2 separate regions of the Homo sapiens genome follow, and region 1 is linked to region 2. A link means that fine-mapping ties the variant in region 2 to the expression of a gene that starts in the linked region. Tissue or cell type: cerebellar hemisphere. Region 2 holds a variant in brackets; the other region holds the start of a gene. All regions are shown on one strand. Distances are from middle to middle.

Region 1 (8,078 bases), 25 kb before region 2:
GGATTACAGGCGTGAGCCACCGCGCCCAGCCATGGCATGGCCAAATCTGAAGTGGACACCTGGCCCGGGCCACCATTTCCTCAAGCCTAAACAACTGCCCAGCCTCCTTGAGGCCTCTACCTCATTCTTTTCTACCCCAAAGTTCCGGACAGTCTGGGTGAGTGCCTCTTCCCTGCCTACAGCTTTCCAAGGCTCCGCTGGACCCAGCACATCCTGGCACCCACTGCCCTGTGTGAGCTGCCTGTGTCTGTCACTATCACCCAACTGCTGTGCCTGGAGCACCCTTCATCAACCTAACCTGGACCCCTCCTGTTCTGCCCTCAGTCTGCCCCCTCTGAGAGGTCATCTCAAGTGTCATGAGCTCCCAGGGCTGGCCACCTAAGCTTCCTGCATTGTGGCACTCAGAGCTGCCTCAGAGCCAGGCACAAGCACCAACTCAGTGAACTGTCTTCAAAAACACAACCCCAGGGCCTGGGCAGTGGCTCATACCTATAATCCCAGCACTTTGGGAGACCAAGGTAGGAGGATCACTTGACCCCAGGAGTTCAAGACCAGCTTGAGCAACGCAGCAAGACCCCATCTCTACCAAAAATACAAAAATTAGCCAGGCATGGTGGGGCGTGCCTATAGTCCCAGCTACTCAGGATGCTGAGGTGGGAAGATCTCGAGCCCAGGAGTTGGAGCCTGCAGTGAGCTACGATCGCACCACTGCACTCCAGCCTGGGCAACGGAGTGAGACCCTGTCTCAAAATAAATAAGTAGGCTGGGCACGGTGGCTCACGCCTGTAATCCCAGCACTACGGGAGGCCGAGGCGGGAGGATCGCCAAGTTCGAGACCAGCCTGACCAATATGGTGAAACCCTGTCTCTACTAAAAATACAAAAATTAGCTGGGCGTGGTGGTGGCAGGCACCTGTAATCCCAGCTACTCAGGAGGCTCAGGCAGGAGAATAACTTGAACCTGGGAGGTGTGGGTTGCAGTGAGCCAAGATCGTGCTACTGCACTCCAGCCTGGGCGACAGAGCAAGACTCTGTCTCAAAAAAATACAAGTAAGTAAAATAAGATAACATAAATAAATAAATAAATAAATAAATAATAAAATCCTACAGGGATGGAAGTGCCAGCACTTCCACTGCAGCAGTGGGAATCTGAGGTTCAGAGAGGGTACCCCACAAAGTATGTAAGTTGAGGCCTGGGGATGTGGACTGGTCACTAAGCCGGCACCGCCACCGCCCCACCACTTACTTCCTGCCTGATTTGCCGTTGACCCGGAGCAGCCAGGGCTGGTCCTCGGGCCGGAACTCCTTGAGGACGATGCCGTACTTCTTCCTCCGAGCCTCCTCCCGAAGCTTGCGGTTGAACTCACTGCCCGCGCCCGATTCGGGCATCTCCTCCTCTTGGTAGATTTTCTTGTTGCTCAAGTCCCGCTCCAGCCGAGCCTAGGGGAGCAGGAAGCAAAGCCTCTCAGGGTCCCTGGCTTTGCTTGCGCAGTGCCCCCCTCCAGGAACGCCCTTCCTTGCCCTAGGCCAAGCTCTAGATTCTCAAAACCAACTTACCACTTGGCAACAAGGGAGGAGAACGGTAGCCTTTGACAAATCTGGGTAAAGGGAATTTGGGCGAGCCTTGCGCTCTATTTTTGCAACTTAAAAGCTTGAAATTATTTCCAAATTAAAATTAAAGAGAAAAAGACCACCTGGTGACCATCAAGCAGGCCATCGGAGGCAAAATTCCTTATCTGAGGAATGTAGAAGTAATTAATTAGACTTCCCTATTATCTACAGCAGGCATCTGGTTCCAGGATTCTTTTCAAAAAATGTCTAAGTACCTAGAATTTCCACACATCTCTCCAGAATGCATGCATATCGAAACTCATTGTGCTGTGGCTCACACCTGTAATCCCAGAACTTTGGGAGGCCAAGGCAGAAGGATCACTTGAGCTCAGGAGTTTAAGACCAGCCTGGCATCAGAATGGCTTGAACCTGGGAGGCGGAGGTTGCAGTGAGCCGAGATCATGCCACTGCACTCCAGCCTGGGTGATAGAGTGACACTCTGTCTTAAGAAAAAAAAGGCCAGGCGCGGTGGCTCACGCCTGTAATCCCAGCACTTCGGGAGGCCAAGGCAGGTGGATCACGAGGTCAGGAGATTGAGACCATCCTGGCTAACACGGTGAAACCCCGTCTCTACTAAAAATACAAAAAATAAGCCGGGCATGATGGCAGGCGCCTATAATCCCAGCTACTTGGGAGGCTGAGGCAGGAGAATGGCGTGAACCCGGGAGGCGGAGCTTGCAGTGAGCCGAGATCCTGGCGCTGCACTCCAGTCTGGGCGACAAAGCAAGACTCAGTCCCCAAAAAAAAAAAAAAAAAAAAAAAAGACCAGCCTGGGCAACATAGTGAGATCCTATATCTATTTCCTAAAAATAAAAAGGCTGGGCATGGTGGAAGGCTGAGGCGGGTGGATCACTTGAGGTCAGGAGTTCAAGACCAGCCTGACCAACATGGCGAAACTTCGTCTCTACTAAAAATACAAAAATTAGCTAGGCGTGGTGGTGGGCGCCTGTAATCCCAGCTACTTGGGAGGCTGAGGCAGGAGAATGGCTTGAACCTGGGAGGTGGAGGTTGCAGTGAGCCCAGGTCGCGCCACTGCACTCCAGCCTGGATGACAAGAGACTCCATCACAAAAAAATAAAATAAAATAAATAAAAAGAAACTCATTGTGCAACACTTGCTGACATTAAGGCACCAAAATCTCTACAAATTAACAATTTATCGTGACCTACATGGCTAATGTGATCCGAATTACCCTTAAGCTCTTGATTTAAGGTCCATATATACCATTTCCAAAACACTCTAGAATCAGCCACATCTCATAACCTCCACTGCCTCCAGTGCCCTGCCAGGACTCACCTAGACCAGTCCAGTTGCTTCTACCTTGGTCTCCGTTTATTTGCCCTCAAACCCACAGTTTGTCTCCCCATAGCAGCCAGATCACACACACTACAACTTCCCAATTGAAGATGCTTTAATGGCTCCCAAAGTCCTTTCTAGAGCCTCTGATGGCAGGGGCTCTGGGAAAGCCCCCAGCCCAGTCCCCTCCCTTGCCCAGATAAACCATGGCCAAAAATGTCCAACAGTGGGCACAGCTTCTAAATGTTCTCCTTTAAGGAGAGGCCTCTGGTGGGCCTACCAAACCTAACTTACAGGGACACCCAGGAGCTAGGCCTGGGCCTTTGCCATTTCCGTTTTTTTTTTTTTTTTTTTTTTTTTTTTTTTGAGGCAGGGTCTTGCTCTGTTATCCAGGCTGGAGTGCAGTCGTACAATCATAGCTCACTGCAGCCTTGAACCCCTGGGCTCAAGCGATCCTCCTACCTCAGCCTCCTATGTAGGACTACAGACCCACGCTATCAGCCCCAACTAACTTTTTAATTTTTTTGTAGAGTTGGGGTCTTGCTATTGTATTGCCCAGGCTGGTCTCAAACTCCTGGCCTTAAGCAAGCTTCCTGCCTCAGCCTCCCAAAGTGCTGGGATTACAGGTGTGAACTACTGCACCCAACCCTTTGTCATCTATCTTTTCTTCACTTGGAGAAAAGTGAGAAAATTAAGACTTAGTGACTATGACAGTTAAGCAACTATCACAACCACCAAGGTCAGGGTCAAGTTCTCTCACCACCCCAGCCCCTGACCCCCAGGACTCAGAGACTTACCTGATTCCACGTAGCAAAGTTGACTTTGTCGGCTGCATTAAAAGCCATGATGTTATATTTTTTGGTTGTATTCCTGGAGTGGATGAGAAGAGGTAGTGTCAATCCAATACAGCAATTCAATCATTAATTTAATCAGTCAATGCTATTGAACCATTAATTCAATCAACCACCCAACTGGATCGTTAATTCAATCAAATCATTACTTTAATTCAATCACTCAATTCAATTGAACCATTAATTCAATTCAATCATTCCATTCAATTGAATCATTAATTCAATTCAATTCACTCAACAAACCCACCCAGCTTCATTCAGCCTGTTTTGCCTGGCAACACTGGATACGGAAGACTCCAAGGATTCCCAGTCTGCCAGAGAAGCTAGACCCATCCTCTCCTGACCCCAGGCAGAAGAAGAGCAGATGGAGGGACGAAGATTTGGGGGAACCCAAGATGTGGAGATTATTGTGAACTCAGCCTTGGGGAGGAGGGAGGACAGGCAGGGAGTATTTCCTGGAGGAGGAAGATACTGGAGTTGAGTTTTGCAGAATCATCAAGAATTCACCCAGCAGAGTCACAGTTTAGGGGTTGAGGGGAGGCACTCATGGCAGAGGAACAGGATGTACAAAGGCCTGGAAAGGAAAGACAGCCTGACCACTTTGAAACAGGACGAGGAATATGTCCTTACAGCTGGCCTGGGCATCATGGGACCATATACTCCTCGAAGGTTAGGCCAGGGGGCTGGATCACCGTGTATTAATGCACTCATTCATTCATTCGTTCAAAAAAGCAGTGTTGTCCCCAGAGAAGCCTCAGCTTAATCCCAGCCCTGCCCTCCAAGTCTCTCCCGGTCTGGAGGGAGAACCACAGACAGGGCCAGAAATGGCTGGCTAAGAAGATCGTGAAGGTTTTCATTTTTGGGGGGTGGAGAGGAGTGGGAGATGGGGCTGGGGACTTACTTAGGAACTCGAACGACGTATTCAGTGACATTCTGGCTGCTAGGGCCCTGCGGAAAGAGGAAGCGGTGAGTGAGGGGTCGCCGAGGTCGCCGTCGGAACCCCCGAACCCCGCCAAATCCACACTCACTAGGGCCGCCATGGGCAATGGTCAGTGGTTCCGATCTGGTCCGACCCGGGTTCCTTTCGTCTCCTCTGGCGTGCGCGTCCCTCGATCCCGGGGAAGCCGCCGCTCGGTGTCGGGTCTCTGTGCCTGAGCGAGGACCCCAACCCTAGGCGCCTCTGGCGCTGGGAAAAGGTAACCGGAAGAGGCGCTCAAGCTACTCGGTCTACGCTTCTGCGGCCGCCTAACCCGGAAGCGAAACCCTCGAGCAGCCGCGTCGCGATGGCAACCTTCTTAGCGACTGTGGCCACCTCAGTGCGCAGTCACTTATGCTCCTCGGCGGCTATGGTCACCTCAAAAGGTCCACCGCGGTCCCTTTTTAGACTCAGCAAACCTAGGCCGAGTCTGAGATAAACTAACGGGCCTCTGTCGCTGGCGCTCTTGTATATAACGCGGTTAACTTCATCAAATGGGGGACCGCCCTCTCTCGTGACGTCAGCACCCAAGGACCGTGGGGCATCCTGGGTGGGAAGAGGGAGACGAATCCCCCTTGCGGGCTCCCAGGCACTTTGCGCATGCGCCTTGCCGCTCTGGACCTGGGGGGCCCAGAAGGCCGCGTCACCATAGCAACCGAGGCCTACTCGGGTCGGGTCGAACCGCCGCTTGGCTCCCCATGGGTCTGTTTGGGGTTCATTTCCTCCCCCTACCCCGAAGGGGTGGACCCCGTCATTCCCGCAAAATGACCGGGGCGGGGACCCTTGTGACGTTGAGCCGAGCCAGGAGGGGTCAGAGCCTGGGCGGGGTCGGGGCGCGACCACCCCAAGAGCTGCTGGCCGGATGGGTCTTTGCAAGTCCAAGCTGCCCGAGATGGGCAGGGCTCTGAGGCCCCAGGAGAAGGGTAACGTCGCGGGGGCGGCTGGCTGGCTTCCTGGGGGGAAGGGAAGGAAGCTGCCGAGAACAGGAGGGAGATGCAGGATCCCCTACCCCGTTCCAGGCATGCACACATCCCCCGAATCATGGCAGTAACACAACTGCGCATGCTCACGGCGCAACCATTCATTGCTCCACTTCGCAAATACTCCAGCACCTCCTGGGTTCGGGGCCCCGCAAGGTGAATCTGTCAAACCAGCTCCCCACGGAGGATTACAGTGTCCTCTCGAGGGTTACAGTGTCGTGGAAGAGACAGAGTCACAGCATGGGAATCTACAACCCAGGAAGGAGCAGGAGAAGCACAGCGGGGCTCTGAGGGCTCAGAGAAGAGGGGAGGTTTCAGTTGGGCACTGAGGGATGCATAGGAGTTGGCTAAGCAAAGGGAAGGCGGGCAAGACACAAAAGTTGGGCCATGAACTACAGACACCGTCGATGTGTCTGTTTTCATTTATTTCTCATCCACCACTAAATGTCAGGAACCGCCAACCCCTAGGAATATAGGAATGAGGGAGGCAGAAATAGTCCTTGCCCTCATGGAGTGTCTGGCTTGGGGGAGACAAGAACGAGTAAACGGCTGGGCACGGTGGCTCATGCCTGTAATCCCAGCACTTTGGGAGGCCGAGGCGGGCGGATCACCTGAGGTTGAGAGTTCGAGACCAGCCTGACCAACGTGGAGAAACCCCGTCTCTACTAAAAATACAAGATTAGCCGGGCGTGGTAGCACATGCCTGTAATCCCAGCTACTCGGGAGGCTGAGACAGGAGAATCGCTTGAACCTGGGAGGCAGAGGTTGTGGTGAGCCGAGATCGCGCCATTGCCCTCCAGTCTGGGCAACAAGAGCGAAACTCCGTCTCAAAAAAAAAAAAAAAAAAAAAAGAAGGAAAAGAAGGAAAAAAAAAGAACGAGTAAACAGAGAAGATCATGACAGACTGTGGCCATTGCTGTGGAGGAAATAGGTGTCTCAGACAAGGAGTGATGGGGGGAAGCTCTAGATGGAGGCTAGAGAAGGCCAGATGGAAGTTGTGGCCAGAAGGAACTGGGGCAGGCAGGGATTTTCCAAGCAGAGGAAACAGCAAGGGAGAAGTGAGTTTCAAATTCAAAGAACTGAAGCCCCCTGGGGCTGGGACAAAGAGAAGGGGAGTATGGGTTGGGGCTGGGACAGAGGGAAGGGGAGTAGGATATGGGGCTGGAACAGAGAGAAGGGGAGTATGGGATGAGACTGGGAGCGTGGGCAAGTCCCTGCCTCTCACTGAACCTCGGTTCCCTCCACTGTAAAATGGGATGATAGAGTCCTCAGGATGCTTTAAGGAGATGCCGTGTGTGAAGGGCCTGGCCTGCTCAAGTTCACGTCTTTGTTTTTTTTTATTTTATTTTTTTGAGACGGAGTCTCGCTCTGTCGCCCAGGCTAGAGTGCAGTGGCACGATCTCGGCTCACTGCAAGCTCTGCCTCCCGGGTTCACGCCATTCTCCTTCCTCAGCCTCCCAAGTAGCTAGGCCTACAGGTGCCCATCACCACGCCCAGCTAATTTTTTGTATTTTTAATAGAGACAGGTTTTCACCGTGTTACCCAAGATGGTCTCGATCTCCTGACCTGAAGTGATCTGCCCACCTCGGCCTCCCAAAGTGCTAGGATTACAGTGCTAGGCATGAGCCCACCGCACCTGGCCACATCATTTTTTTTTTTAAATGGAGTCTTGCTTTGTTGCCCAGTCTGGAGTGCAGTGGCACAATCTCGGCTCACTGCAACCTTTGGCTCCTGGGTTCAAGCGATTCTCCTGCTTCAGCCTCACGAATAGGTGTGCACCACCACACCCAGCTAATTTTTTTTGTATTTTTAGTAGTGATGGGGTTTCACCCTGTTGGCCAGGCTGGTCTCAAACTCCTGACATCAAGGGATCCACCCGCCTCGGCCTCCCAAAGTGCAGGGATTATAGGCGTGAGCCACCACACCTGGCCTCAAGTTCACATCTTCATCCAAAGCGGCACAAACACACAACGTGCCTGGCTATGCCCTTGAGAACAGAACCATACCCCTAAGAGGCCGGGCGCGGTGGCTCACGCCTGTAATCCCAGCACTTTGGGAGGCCGAGGCGGGCAGATCATGAGGTCAGGAGATCGAGACCATCCTGGCTAACATGGTGAAACCCCGTCTCTGCTAAAAACACAAAGAAAATTAGCCGGGCGCGGTGGCGGGTGCCTGTAGTCCCAGCTACTCAGGAGGCTGAGGCAGGAGAATGGCATGAACCCGGGAGGCGGAGCTTGCAGTGAGCCGAGATAGCGCCATTGCACTCCAGCCTGGGCGACAGAGCAAGACTCTGCCTCAAAAAAAAAAAAAAAAAAAAAAAGAACCATACCCCTAAGATGCCACCCTACAGCAAGAGTATGCCAAG
Region 2 (8,074 bases):
GGTGGCCCCTCGGTGCCCTCTCCCACCTCACATCCGGTCCCATCACCCAGCGAGCACTGACGCGGGCCTGGCTCCCACCTCAGGGCTCTGAACGTTAACAGGCCAGAGGACCTCCTGTAGCAACAGCCCATCCATGGGAACGCCGGTCCCTGAGGCCCTCCTGAGCGCCTTGCTCCCCAAGGTGCTGGAGGGAAACTGGGTAGGGGAAGACAGCAGTGCTGGGCTCAGCCAGCCTCCCCTTCCCACATGGGAAGGGGAAAGTCTTGGGGGGCCACACCCCACTCTAATTGGCTGAGACTTGCTCAACTTGTTTCCTCTCACAAACACAACTGCGGCCAGCACGCAGTCTTTTTTAAACAAAAAGCACTTTATTTAACAAAAAAAAAAAAGGGGGGGGGGCACGGTTAGGAAAGCACATTGAGCCTGAAGAAAACTATTTTATATTTTTCTTAAAAAAAAAAAAACACAAAGTTTGTAAATTTCAATCACCATTATCAGGCTTTTTAAACAACATCTATAAAGAACAAACATCCGCTTCAAAACTACAGGGAGGGAAGGAAAGGGGGGGAGACAGACAGCACCCGCAGACGGGGAGGTTTTGTTATCATTTATTTGTGAAGTTAAAAACGAGCGATAAAAAGTAAAAACTGCCATACAATTTTTTTTGTTGTTCTCATTTTGTTTTCAGTTTCAATCTCCTCTTGAACAGATGAAAAGACAACAGACCAGTCCTGGGAGGGGGGACGGGCGGGGCCGCGGGAGCTGAGCCAGGGCGGGAGGGAGAGAAGAGGGGGCTTGGCTGCTGGGGGAAGGGGTCCTGCAATACAACACCTGGTCCAAGGAATGTTCCACCTCTAACTAAAAAAAAGAAATAGCAAGAGTGACTTTTTTTTTTCCTTTTTAAAAGTTTATTTTAAAAACAAGAGGGCCGAGGGTGGGAGAAAATGAATTGCTTTATCCTCAGAGAGGCAGGTTCAGGAAGGCTGGGGGGTGAAGAATAGAGACTTTTTAATATATATATATATAATTTTATAAGTTCTGCTTTGCTCTTTGTGTTTTTAATTTTTAAGTTTTTTTTTTTTTTTGGCAGAGATTTAGATCTCGCTATCTTCTCTGGCTGGCTCAACATGGAAGGATCCCAATTTTGAAAGAAAAAGCATGTGAGACACAGAACAGGCGAGAGAGTGAGGGCCCGGCATGCCCCCAAGTCCCCCCCACCCTGCTTGCCGCGAGGGCTCCCCAGTACTCCCCACGGCAGCCATCGCTCTCTCGCCAAACAAAACAGAAGCCCCCAAACAGAACAAAATGGAAAAAAAAAAGATTTTTCACAGATGAAGAAGTTCACATTCATTCGATTCATTGAGCCTGCGGAGAGGGAAGAGATAGGAATTGGTCACTACGGGGAGGGAAGGGTGGGAGACTAGGGGGCGGAAGAGAGGAGGGGCTGGAACACCGTGGGGGGGGCCAGGAAGCCCCCTCCCAAACCTGCGCTGGCTCAGGCTGGAAGGACGTGCTTGTTAACTGTCTAGCCAGGTGCTCGCGGGACTCGCTGAAGTCACGCTGCTCCCTGATGGAGAAGGAGGGACAGAGCAGGAAGAGAGGAGAGGGGCCGCGGAGGGCGGAGGCGCTAGGGTCGTAGGGGAGCTGCCCTGTCTCCGGAGGGCGGTGGCTCCCGGCGCAGCACGACGACATGAACAATCCAGAGATCATGGTGTCCCCACAACACCCCTGTGAGGTAGGTTGGAAGGTGGCAACGATCTTCACGCCCACTTCACAGACAAGCCCGGGACACAGGCAAGCGCGAGCGCATGGGAGGCTGAGCCCGGCGGGGCAGGGGCCTGGGCCGCTCCCCGCGTCCCCACCAGTCCCTGCCAGAGCCAGGCCGCCTGCAACACAGTCACTTGGACACAGGAAAAAAGATCATGGGTTTAAAAAATAAAAGAATAAAAAGAACAAAAACCAAAAAAGTGATGCAGAGAAGGGGAAAAAATAGACGTTTTCTTCCCAAGTGGCCAGATTGTGAGCGAGGTGGTGGCGGCCGGGCCGGTGCCCACCGTCCGCGCTGTCTGCCTGCCCCCCGACTCCCCAGCAGTTCAGAAGTCCCGCCTGCGAGTCTCAGCGCTCCCCAGCATCACGACAGCGGCACACAGGAACAAGCAGCCGGCGCAGGGAGGCCTCTTCGTTTAACCTCTGGACCCAGCGAATGCTTCCCTGGCGGTGCGTGGGGACTCCCGGAGACCTCCGGCCACACGGCCCCCGCTGCAGGCATCAAGGGCACACCCCGCAGGGGAAGGGGTTTCCGGCGCTACCCACTAAGGCAGGATGGACGGTGGCCGGGGGTTGGAAGGAGAAAGGAGGAGGAGGAGGGTGGCAATTCCCACTTGCCTGCTGCTGTCCCTGCTGCGTGGGCGGCGGCTGGGGGCCGCCAGGACCTGGGGTCTGTCCGTAGTAAGCGGCCTGCTGTCTGTAATATTCCGCCCAGGCGGCACTGTAGTCTGGCTGGGAGCCTGGGGGAGCTCCTGGACCCCCTCCGGTGGCCACTTGCGCTGTGGGTGGACAAAGGCAGGTGAGAGGCTGTGGGTGAGGGCTGCCCCTGCCCCTGTCCCCGCATGGTGGCCACTCACCTTGCTTCTTGTAGTACTCCTCCCAAGCCTTCGTGTAGTCCTGCTGTGGGGGTGCTCCGGGCTGCTGGGGCTGCTGGCCTGTGCGGGCGCCGAGACAGGTCAGAAACCACTCCCCCGGCAGGGCTGGAGCCCCCCCGCCACCCTGCAGACTCACCGATCTTTTTGTAATACTCTTCCCAGGCCTTAGTGTAGTCCGACTGGCCGGTGGGTGGGGGCTGAGGGGGCTCACCCTGAGCCGGTGGGGCCGCAGGGGCCGGTGCGGGGCCGGGGACGGGGCCCGGGGGCTGCTGGTAGTAGTGTGAGTAGTAGGCGGCCCACGCGGCGTTGGGGTCCGCGGCCGCTGCAGCTGCTTTGCCTGCAGGAGATACCTCGGGTGAGACGGGGGGACAGAACAGGGCCTGCCCTCCGCCAGGTGGCCCATCACTTACTTGGGTCATGAGGAGCAGGCGGCTGCCACTGGGGGTAGGTATTGCCCCAGCCCTGGGGTGGGTACTGGTGAGGAGGGGGCCCCCCGGCACTGCAGGAGAGAAGAAAGGGATGCTTGAGCAGTGGTGCGGGGGTGGCCGCAGCCGGACCACCTGGGGTGGGGATGTTTTTCAGTGGGGAGGCGCCAGAGACCCAGACCACCAGGCTCAACGGGGCGCCTGGGAAAGGCCTAGACAAGAAGCAACTCGAAGGACGCGCAGCGTCAGCTTGAGGACATGAAAGAAGCCGCGAAACTTGCACGTGCACAGAGGGATGCTGAAAGGCACATGCTCTACCAGTAGACAGGAGAGGGCCTGTTGATGGTATCCACAAAAATGGGCTGGATGAGGCCCCCCGCCTGCACTTCTAGGGAAAGGGAAATGGGGTCTGCTATTCTTCTTGCCAGCTCAGTAAGCCCCCGGCCTCAAAACCCAGGAGGCAGAGGATACTCACTGTGGGGGAGCCCCGGGTGGCCCCTGGTTGAAGGGCCCAGGATTGAAGGGCCCCATTGGGCCAGCAGGGCCTGGGCCACCTGGGCCTGGTCCAACTGGGCAGAGAGGACCCTAGAAGGAAGGAGAGTAACCAAG[G/GT]TAAGTGGGCTGGGATCCGGGCTGTGAGACCAAATCCCCAGAGCCCGCCCCAACCCACCTCGATCTTTTCCTCGATAAGCTGCTTGGCGTGGTCAATCTGCTGGGGTGAACCCCGGATGATGAACAACTTGAAGTTGGGGTCCCCGTTGGGTGGCAGCTGCCGGGAGATCTCTACGAAGGCTCCCGTCTGCTGGTTTATGGCTTTCACATTCTCGCCACCTGCAGAAACGCAGAAGGTGAAGGTGGCCTGCAGTGATGGCCCAGGGAAGAGGGGGCAAGGGATAGGGTGCAGGGGGCCACACTCACCTCGGCCGATGACCAGCCCACACTTGTGAGTGGGGATGGAGAAGGTCATCTCCCCGCCAGGGGGACCCCAATTGCCTTGGCCTCTTCCTCGGCCTCGGCCCCCCGGGGGCATGCCTGGACCCCCTGGAGGACCTGGGGGACCACTCTGCAAGACAAGAGGAGGAGGAGGATGATGAACCCTGGAAGCCGGTCTGGTCTTGCACTCCCCTGGAGGCCCTGCCAGCCCCTTCAGCACCCGGGGCCACCTACCCTGAGGCTCTGGAGGAGGTCGTTGATGATCCGGGCTGCGTGCTCGCACCTGTCTGGGGGCCCCATTATATGAGCAATCTTCTCGGGCCCTGTCCCGTCATCTGAGGCCAGCACCGAGAGAGCAGAGACACAAGTTTAAAAGAAGAGCCCACCCCAGAGCCCTGCAACGCCGCCTCCAGCGCAGACACCACGCCGGCCTGAGATCTCAGACGCGCTGCGCCGCTCCCAGCCTCCACTCGCTCAGGGATTGAGGGGGAGGCGGCCCACATTCCCAGAGAAGGAAACCCACGGCCAAGCCAGGAGGTGGCTCAAGCTTCTTCCAGCACACAGCACCCCCAGCACTGAGAGATTTTACAGAACAATAAATCTCTGAAAAGCCAGAGGGGCCCTTCTCCCCACGGCAGGCAGCTCAGAGACTGCCTGAGGACTGGCAAGAGCCCAGAGCTGAGGTGGAGTGCCCTGATCCAGCCTGCGGGGCACCCAGGGCTGTCCTGTCAGGATAGGCTCCATCGTAGGGGGAGGAAGAGGAGATCTGATAGGGATAGGAACACACGTTCCCCCTGGATGTGGAAAGCCCTCATGTGTCTGTCCCAGAGAAGAGAAGGGACTGGCCATGTTCTGACGGCTGGACTAAGAGCCGTGAGGTGCTATGGAGGCCACCTGGCTGACCACGGTGCCCAGCTCCCTCAGAGCCTGCCTCCCAAAGAGGGTGGGGGTGCACTGGCCAGGGGCAGGGTGGGCCAGGCCCTGACCTTGCTTGAACTGTATCCGCACGCCAGCATCATTCTGGATCTTCTTGATCATCTCTCCACTCCGGCCAATGACCACGCCAACAGAATGCCTGGGCACTGGCACCTGGGGAGGGAGGCAGCAGCGTCAGCTCGGCCCGCAGCTCTGCTGCCCTCTGCTGCCCACTGGCCACAAGGAGCCACTCACCCCGGCCCCTCCCTCCACTGGCGGGGGAGAGGGGGGTGAAGGCAGGGCCCACACTCACATCGATGCCTCCGCCAATCCGAGATCCGTACTCATTCCGGTCCCCAAAGCCGCCTTGGTCACGTTCCCGGAGGATGTCCATCACCATCTCACAGGCTTGCTGCAAACACACAGGAAGCAGCCCCCATGGGTGAGCCCTGCTGCCCCACACCCCCCCACCTCCTCGGGGGTGCGGGCCTCAACTAAGGACCCACGAACCCTGGGTGAGCCCAGCACAGCACCCTACTGAGCTCTCTACCTGCCACTTTAATGGGGAGGCACTACCAGCAGCCCCGTTTCCAGATAAAAAAGCAGAAGGTCAGAGGTGAGGCCGGTGCCTCACACACACAAAGCTGGGAGTCAGTTCAGGGCCATCCTACGAGCCAGCGCTCTTGCAAGCCTCTTGGTGTTATGACCGACTGTTCACATATCTCTCTGGCGGAATGCAGACCCCGAGACCGCTGGCCCTGCCCACCTGCCCGTGCCTCTCCAGAACCCCCTCCACCACCCCAGGGCGTGCTCACCTGCACTTTGTAAGGATCCCCAATGATGCGGAGAGGTTTGTCCACATTCGTATTCTGAGATCCGTCCTGAATTAAGATCATCTTCACTCCAGCGCGTTCCTTTACAAGCAAGGTTAACCGTTAGTGCTGGGCTCTCCCAGGACTTCCTGGGCTGCTGTGGTGGTGGCGGTGGGGTGTGGCACACGGATGCAGAGGAAGCTGCCCAGGTGCTGCCCTCACCTGCAGCTGCTTAATGGTCTCCCCGCCCTTGCCAATGACCAGGCCGGCCTTGCCCGCGGGGATCATGATCTCCTGCACGGTGCCGTTCTGGCCCCCGTTGGCGTTGTCGTGGAACTGTCCTGGGGGGCCCCCACGACCCCGAGACACAATGTCATCCAGCATCATCTTGGCTTTCCTGGGAAGGGGAGGAGCGGGGGATGAGCGGGTGCCACCGCTGGAGAAAGGTACTGGTCTGGTGGCCCACCCAGCTCAAAGGGAAGGCGACCCCAGAGTGTGCAAGGATGACAGGGAAGAGGGGCCAGTCACAGGGGCTGTTCAGGCTCCAGGTTCCCCAGGTCTTGGGCTGCCGGGGAATCAGCCTCATGTTAACATGGCTGTCTGGAGATGGGGGCAAGAATGGAGGACATGGCGTGCAAGTTGCTCCCAACTTTCAATTCAAACGGACAGAGCAGGCTTCTGCCTGCCCCCCACATCACAATGAGAGGCCCTGTGGGGACTTACTGGACAGATTCTGGGGCTCCTGTCAAGGACACACTGCGCTCGGGTAGGCCACCGCTGTCTGAAAAGAGGAGATAGAGTCAGTGCCCTCCCTGGCCCACAGGCAGAGAAAGGCCTGCCTTGGACACGAGGAAACTTTCAGAACAACCAAGGGCCACTTCTGTCCCATTCAGTGCCTGACAGATCAGTTTACTTCCCCTAAACACCTGGGAGGCTGCTCGATGCAAGGCCAAGGTTGGGAAGAGATCCCAGAAGGGAGGTAGGACTTTAAGGGAAAAGGATGAGGTGGAGGGAGTTGCAGATTCCAGAAGGTCCAGGAGCCGGCCACCCCCACTACCAATGATGACCAGAGCCGCTTCTATAGACAACACGTGCTACACGCCCAAGGAAGCCTCAGAACCCCCTACCCAGCAGGCTTTCTGTAGCTCAGGACTCTGAGATTCGAAAGGTAACTACATTGCCTGAGAGCAGATGTGCAGCCAGAACCGGGATTTGCTCCTGGGCCTGACCTCAGAGTGACCCCTCTGTCCAAGGCACCACCCTGTCTCACGCAGTCTTGCCGGGGTGCTTTCACCCACGCGGCAGGTCAGTGCAGTGCGTCGAAGCTCGGTGTCTGGAACCAGGCCCCTGTGCGAAATGCTAGCCCTGCCACCTCAGTCCATACCCACCCACTGAAAATAAAAAAAGTCACAGCTGTGCCCCGTGGGCAGTACTAGTGGAGTGAGATACTGCACTGAGCCTGGTCCGTAGTAAGCACCAACAAGCGCCAGCTCGCTTCCTGTCCACAGTCCCCGTGGAAATTAAGTAATTAAAGGAAAGTGCAAAGGGCCCAACCCTGGCCCCCACTCTGGCAGGAACCTGACGCTCTTATACCTGGAGAAATCTGTACTTTGCAGCCTGAATCCTGTTGGATTTTGTTAATTTGTTCACCTCCTCTGCCAATGACTGGATGGAGAAAGAAGGAGAAAAGCAAAGCGTGATGAGGGAAGGGAGCCCAGGCCTCAGGAGACTGTGTGGCCGGGGCCCCAGCCCCTCTGACGTTCAGGAGGGCAGCAGTCCTCTAGAGAGCTCCTGTCCTCTGCCCAGAGGGGACGAAGGAGGGACAAATGAGAACAGCACATAGGAGCCCTCTCAGACCAGGGCTTCTGGGCTGGCAGGAGCTCACAGGACACTTCCTCCTGGGGAAGAGTGGGCCTCCCCACCCAAGGTGACCCACACTCACTCAGGCCCACCATGCCGTCTGGGACCCTGTACTCTTCTGTCATTGAAGTCCTGTAAAGAGACACGCCAAAGGTCAGTCCTCAAGTGGGAAGGGAGGAGGACAGCAGCTCTGGAAGGTCTACTTGAAGCCAAGGCCACCATAGGTCTAAGCAGAGTCTGACCACACAGGCCACAAAACTGCCAAGGCCTCAGTTTCCCCATCTGTGCCCCGAGAGGCTTGCTCTGGGCATTGTGGGCCTTGGCCTGGTGCCGTCCCATTGATTCAGGGCGAGAGGGAGCACTGAGTAGCAAGCTGACAGTCACTCTATGTCTCTCAGTTCTAAAAAGCTGGCTGTATGTCCTTTTCATCTTATTTTCCTAGTATTTTATGAAACTACTGGCCCATTAAAAACAAACAAACAAAAAATGA

The links. PIP is the estimated chance that this variant, and not a neighbour inherited with it, causes the effect.
Region 1: GTF2F1 starts here. The variant in region 2 is fine-mapped to the expression of GTF2F1 in cerebellar hemisphere (GTEx, PIP 0.97).

The regions. Positions count from the first base shown.
Region 1 is chr19:6,388,199-6,396,276 of GRCh38, forward strand. GTF2F1 (general transcription factor IIF subunit 1) reads right to left here and starts at 4,966. Exons shown (of 13, transcript NM_002096.3): 1 at 4,786-4,966; 2 at 4,659-4,705; 3 at 3,704-3,776; 4 at 1,246-1,439. The coding sequence starts at 4,797. It overlaps MIR6885 (microRNA 6885), which reads right to left and starts at 1,505; the gene lies at 1,440-1,505. It overlaps MIR6790 (microRNA 6790), which reads right to left and starts at 4,785; the gene lies at 4,723-4,785. It also overlaps the pseudogene LOC390877.
Region 2 is chr19:6,412,756-6,420,829 of GRCh38, forward strand. KHSRP (KH-type splicing regulatory protein) reads right to left here. Exons shown (of 19, transcript NM_001366299.1): 5 at 7,667-7,716; 6 at 7,318-7,389; 7 at 6,448-6,505; 8 at 5,947-6,121; 9 at 5,728-5,826; 10 at 5,226-5,324; 11 at 4,984-5,086; 12 at 4,232-4,332; 13 at 3,983-4,127; 14 at 3,735-3,895; 15 at 3,543-3,652; 16 at 3,053-3,141; 17 at 2,779-2,979; 18 at 2,625-2,702; 1 more. The coding sequence ends at 2,269. MIR3940 (microRNA 3940) reads right to left here and starts at 3,756; the gene lies at 3,655-3,756. RefSeq lists an enhancer at 1-591. The variant G/GT (reference allele first, on the strand shown) is at 3,677.